Regions from separate parts of the Homo sapiens genome. Here region 1 is linked to region 2. Evidence: fine-mapped expression QTL. Tissue or cell type: whole blood. Region 2 holds a variant in brackets; the other region holds the start of a gene. All regions are shown on one strand. Distances are between the middles of the regions.

What was found. PIP is the estimated chance that this variant, and not a neighbour inherited with it, causes the effect.
Region 1: DBNDD1 starts here. The variant in region 2 is fine-mapped to the expression of DBNDD1 in whole blood (TOPMed, PIP above 0.99).

What each region holds. Positions count from the first base shown.
Region 1 is chr16:90,018,114-90,020,862 of GRCh38, reverse strand. DBNDD1 (dysbindin domain containing 1) reads left to right here and starts at 1,407. Exons shown (of 4, transcript NM_001042610.3): 1 at 1,407-1,552. The coding sequence starts at 1,522. It also overlaps a transcript of DRC4 not described here. RefSeq lists silencers at 108-402, 1,149-1,288.
Region 2 is chr16:89,946,719-89,949,467 of GRCh38, reverse strand. DEF8 (differentially expressed in FDCP 8 homolog) reads right to left here and starts at 713. Exons shown (of 13, transcript NM_001242818.2): 1 at 654-713; 2 at 1-51. RefSeq lists a silencer at 584-683 and an enhancer at 1,364-1,703. The variant G/C (reference allele first, on the strand shown) is at 1,170.

The DNA of each region.
Region 1 (2,749 bases), 71 kb before region 2:
CAGAAGTCTGGATGAGTGTCCTGAATTAAATAGCTGTATTAACAATAATTCCTTTCAGCAAAAAGGGCAAGAATAGGAGGGTTAGCTCAGGATAGCCTAGACAGGGTACTCATTTTTCACAAGCTAAGAGCAATCCTGGTCTGTCGGTGTGGGCTGCAGAGATGAATCATTCAGGGAGCCCTGAATTGCGGCTCCCTGGGATCCCGACAGGGCCCACTGCGACCTGTTCTTTTCATATTGAATTCGAGTTCAGATTTTTAGAAAAGAGCCTTTTCTTCACATATGTGGCTTAAGATACTTTCATTCAGTGTCAAGCTGTGCAGCTCAGAAACCCAGATAAATGGCATCTGAGTTTCCTGCAAAATCCCAGAGCAAATGTTAATACAAACAAACCGACTGCCCTCTGTCTGATGTCTGATGCTTCCTGCCACCCACTATCCACCAGGTAAACCGCCTCAGGCCACGGCATCAACTCAGTGAAGGCCTGGATGCTGGGTTAACAAGAGTGTTTATGAAGACTAGACTTTTTCTTTTCTTTTCTTTTCTTTTTTTTTTTTGAGACATACAATCATAGCTCACGGCAGCCTTGGACTCCTGAGCTCAAGCTGTGCTCCCACCTCAGCCTCCCAAAGGGCTGGGATTACAGGCATGAGTCAATGCTCCTGCAAACGGACTTTCTTTGAGAGATAAATATTGAAGTACTTACAAATGCAATGATCTAATGTGTATATAATTTGCTTCAAAATGACCCAGCAGTGGAGGGAAGTGAATGAGGACAGAGAAGCAGTGGCCCAGGCCAGGAGCTGGCAATCGCTGAATCTGGGCGATAGGGACATGGGGGTCAGTTTCATCGAAACTGCCTTGGCGCTCTCTGCAGCCCGGGCCCGCCGCCCTCTCCTTACCTCCCATCCCCCATCCCGCCCCTTCCAGCCTCCCAAGCACACGCCCTCGCCCCCACCCGCCCCCCGCGTTAATTCGCGCCATCCAGGGCGCTCTGTGAGTCTGTCATTACCCAGCGCGAGTCAGGCCCCTCCTGTGCCCCTCGCCAGCCCCGAGGGGCGCCCGCACACAGTCGGCGCCCCACACGCAAGTACCTGGAAGAGAACAAGAGGACGCCAGCGGGCGCGGCCGCCAAGTGAGTGCGCAGGAGCCCCGGACGCCCGGCCGGGGTCGGGAGGGCGCAGCCAGGTCCCGGTGGTGTCCGCGGCGGGGCGCGGCCCGCGAGGGAAGGGTCGGCGGGGGAGGGGTCCGCTGGGCCAGGGGCCAGCAGGGGGCGCGCGCGGGCCGGGGCGGGGCCGCACCTGTCCTGCGGCTGGGGGGGCGCCGGGAGGGGGCCGGGGCCCGGGAGCAGCTGCGCGCCCCGCCCCGCCCCGCGGGCTCCTCCCTGCCGCCGCGGCCCCCCGGTTGCTGCCCCGATGCGCTGCGCCCGGAGCCGGGGCCGAGTCGCTGCCGCAGCTGTTGGGGCGCCCGGGCCAGGCGACGCCGCCGTCGCCCGTGCCCCTCCCAGACCGCACCGGCCGCATGGAGCCCCCGGAGGGCGCCGGCACCGGAGGTGAGTTCAGCCCCAGCCCCCGAGACCCCCGCGCAGCGCTTCCCCGCAGCGAGCCGCAGCCCCTCCCCCCAGGGCTCACCCTTCGCCGCTCCCGGGAGTCGCGAAGACCCCTTTGGCAGCTCGGGGTCGTCCGGCGGGCCAGGGGCACCTCCCGGGCGCGGTCCCCGCGCGGGGCTGGGGGCACACGGACCGAGTCTCCGCCCCCTTGTTCTCTGCGCTCCCGGCCCGGGAAGCCGTGCCCGGCACGCTCCTTGGTGGGTGGCCCGGAGTTTCGTCCTGAGCCCCCTCCCAGCCAAGCCAGCCGGTGACCCGGGGAGCGGGGGAGGGGGGTTCCGGGGCTGGAGTTTGGGGTCCCTGTCGGTGGGGCGTGAGGGCGACGCTGGCCGCTTGCAAGCGCGTCCGCTTTGTTCGCCCAGCCGCGAGTCCCGGGGGGCGAGGGCCGTAGACTCGCGGGCAGGGATCCTGCCAGGGGCGAGGGGCTGAGATGGGTCTTGGGGATGTGGGGCATGCACGGGCGCGGCCTGCCGGGGACTCCAGAGCTGCAAGGGTGGCTGGTCCGGGAGTGGCCCAGGCGCACGCTCATCGGGGAGGGTAGGTGCGCGTGGAGCGCTCCCTGCCCTGATGGTGGAGGCCCTACTGCAGGACCTTGGAGTCGGTAACGGGAAGAAAGCTCTCAGAACCTCCCCCCTTCCCGATCAGAGACTTTTCCAAAAGGGCTTTCGGGGTTCCATTTGCCTAGGTAGGAACTTGGATGCAAACTGCAGACTCCTCCACCTGCCCAGCCAAGCCCACCACCTCCTGGTTTCCTAGAGCTCCCATTCCAGGGAGCCAGCAGGTGCCTGAGGGCACAGGCAGGCCAGCCTGCCGCTCTGGAACTACATGGGAACCTCTCAGTCCCCCAGCCGCACACAGTGGCATCCTCTGGAGCCCGAAGGGCTGTCCCCGGGAGGAGCAGGTCCACCCACCCTGTGTATCTGCAGTCCAAGGTATAGGGACAAATGCCCCAGGGCTGGTGGGTTTGGGTTTTGATTTGTCATTTGTGGGAGGGACCAGAGCTCTTTCTTAACACTGATAGTCCCAGGCTCCTGGGTATTCCCAGTAGCAGCTTTGTGGACATAGGAAGCCTGGAGGTTGGGAGTGAGGGCTTGGGGGTCTCCGAGCTGTTTCCAGCTGTGAACTGTGGGCAGTCAGGCCCCT
Region 2 (2,749 bases):
ATTCCTCTAGGGCTGCTGGCCACGGAAGCCTGGCCGTGGGTTCGGCACCTGCTGCAGGGAGAAGCCACCCCAGCACTGTGCCTCCCCACCCACCACACCCGCGGGAGCTCGCCCGGTCTCCCGGGCTCCTCGGGGGCAGGTCTCTCCCACCCACCCGTTCCACCGAGGGGGAAACTGAGGCTCGGAGCAGCCCAGGGCGGGGGCACGGCCACGCGGGTCCCCTGAGCCGCCCGGGTGCTCCGCACGCAGCTGGTGTGGACGCCGGAGCAGCGGCGGCGTCCCCGGGGTGGGGCGGCCGAGGTCTCGAGGCCCCTGCGCCGGGCGGGCCGCCCTCCCAGCCCCGTCCCCGCCGGCCCCGACCTCGCCGGCCCCGTCCCCGCCGGCCCCGTCCCCGCCGGCCCCGTCCCTCCCAGCCCCGACCCCGCCGACCCCGTCCCCGCCGGCCCCGTCCCTCCCAGCCCCGACCCCGCCGGCCCCGTCCCCGCCGGCCCCGTCCCCGCCGGCCCCGTCCCTCCCAGCCCCGTCCCCGCCGACCCCGTCCCCGCCGGCCCCGTCCCTCCCAGCCCCGACCCCGCCGACCCCGTCCCCGCCGGCCCCGTCCCCGCCGGCCCCGTCCCCGCCGGCCCCGACCCCGCCGGCCCCGCGCCGCTCACCTGACCGCCGCCTCGCATCTGTCTCCCGGCTGCGCTGGATCCGCCCGGCCGCCCCGCTACGCTGGATCCAGCCCCGCGCTCGCTGCTGCCGCCTCCGGCGCGGAGGTTCATGGCACGCGGGTCGCGAGTCTGCGAGCCCCGGAGTCCGCCCGGCTGTTCCGCGGGCCTGACCTGGGGCTGCGCGTCCTGGGTTTCCTCTCATCGCAGAAGGCCTGTGGCTGAAACCCAAACCCCAACACGTTTAAAAAAAATGGGCGGGCGCGGCGGCTCACGCCTGTCATCCCAGCGCTTCGGGAGGCCGAGGCGGGCGGATCGCGAGGTCAGGAGATCGAGACCATCCTGGCTAACACGGTGAAACCCCGTCTCCACTAAAAATACGAAAAATTAGCCGGGCGCGGTGGCGGGCGCCTGTAGTCCCAGCTACGCGGGAGGCTGAGGCGGGAGAACGGCGTGAACCCGGGAGGCGGAGCTCGGAGTGAGCCGAGATCGCACCACTGCACTCCAGCCTGGGCGACA[G/C]AGCGAGACTCCGTCTCAAAAAAACAAAAAGGGTGGCTTTTAACACTTTTTTTAACCTCAGTGGTTGAGGAGGAAAAAGGAACAGAGAACCACCGTGTGCAGGTGCCGCCAGCCACCTGCAGGGCCCCGCGGGGGCTTCACGGCTGCAGAGGGAGGGACCCGGCGCGGCTCTACCCTCTTTACACAGGAGGACGCGCCACACTGCGCTCAGGAGGCTGCTCCATGCAGGCGCCGGGCAGCGGGACTTCGGAGGCAGCTGGTGTCCGCGGGCCCTGGCGTTATTCCTGCTTTCCCGTTGTTTACACACAGAGCAGGCCTGCTGCTCCCCGCCCCCGTATCCCTACTCTTAGGCTTCTCGCGTGGAAGATTCAGCTGCCCCCGCTTGTGCCCGCAGGGAGGAGCTGAGGACAGATGAAGGCCAGCATATGCGCCTGGTGCGCTTGCCCTGAGCTCGCGGGCTCAGTTTACCCTCCCTGCAGAAAGGTGTGGTTTTGGCTGCCTCTGGGGCTTGGTCCACTTTGTTCAGTGGGCATGGTGATGACAGTGCCAGTAACTGGAGGCCTCCCAAGTGGGAGCCACACACCACCTTGCAGAGACCAGCTCGGTCGGGGAGACCCTAACCCGGCAGCGCTAGAGGAACTAAAGACACACACACACAGAGATAGAGAGGTGTGGAGTGGGAAATCAGGGGTCTCACAGCCTTCAGAGCTGACAGCCTCGAACAGAGACTTACCCACGTATTTATTAACGGCAAACCAGTGATAAGCATTGTTTCTGTAGATATTAGACTAACTAAAAGTATCCCTTATGGGAAACGAAGGGATGGGCCAAGATAAAGGGATGGGTCTGGCTAGTTACCTGCAGCAGGAGCATGTCCTTAAGGCACAGATCGCTCACGCTATTGTTTGTGGCTTAAGAATGCCTTTAAGCAGTTTTCCGCCCTGGGTGGGCCAGGTGTTCCTTGCCCTCATTCTGGTAAACCCACGACCTTCCAGCGTGGGCGTCATGGCCGTCATGAACATGTCACAGTGCTGCAGAGATTTTGTTTATGGCCAGTTTTGGGACCAGTTTATGGCCAGGTTTTGGGGGGCGTGTTGCCAACACCATCTCATTTAACCCTACGGAAGCCTGGGGGCCAGCAGTCACCTACAGGACAGGCAACTCCATCGGCCCCCCCAAGGCCACATCGCTCAGAAAGGGTGCAGTGAGATTCCACCCCAGCTTAGGGTGGCTTCGGACGCCGTGTCCCTCCATGCACTCAGACCTGGAGGGAGACTGCCCTGAGCCGCCGCTCTATCTGCTGCTTCAAGGTCCCCAGTCCTAGAGATTCCACGTCCACCTGGCCTCTCTCCCAGCTCCTCCTTCTGGAAAGGCCTTCCCCATCTCAGCTCCCACCTGGGCCCCACAGTACATCCTCAGCCTGGCAGTGAGAGGGACCCTGGGAAGAAGTCGGCCCCCACCTTCACCTCCTGGCTCCTCTCCCCAACAGGCCAGGCCCACCCCCACCCCCACCTTCACCTCCTGGCTCGTCTCCCCAACAAGCCAGGCCCACCCCCACCGGGGCCCCTGCCTGGCTGAGC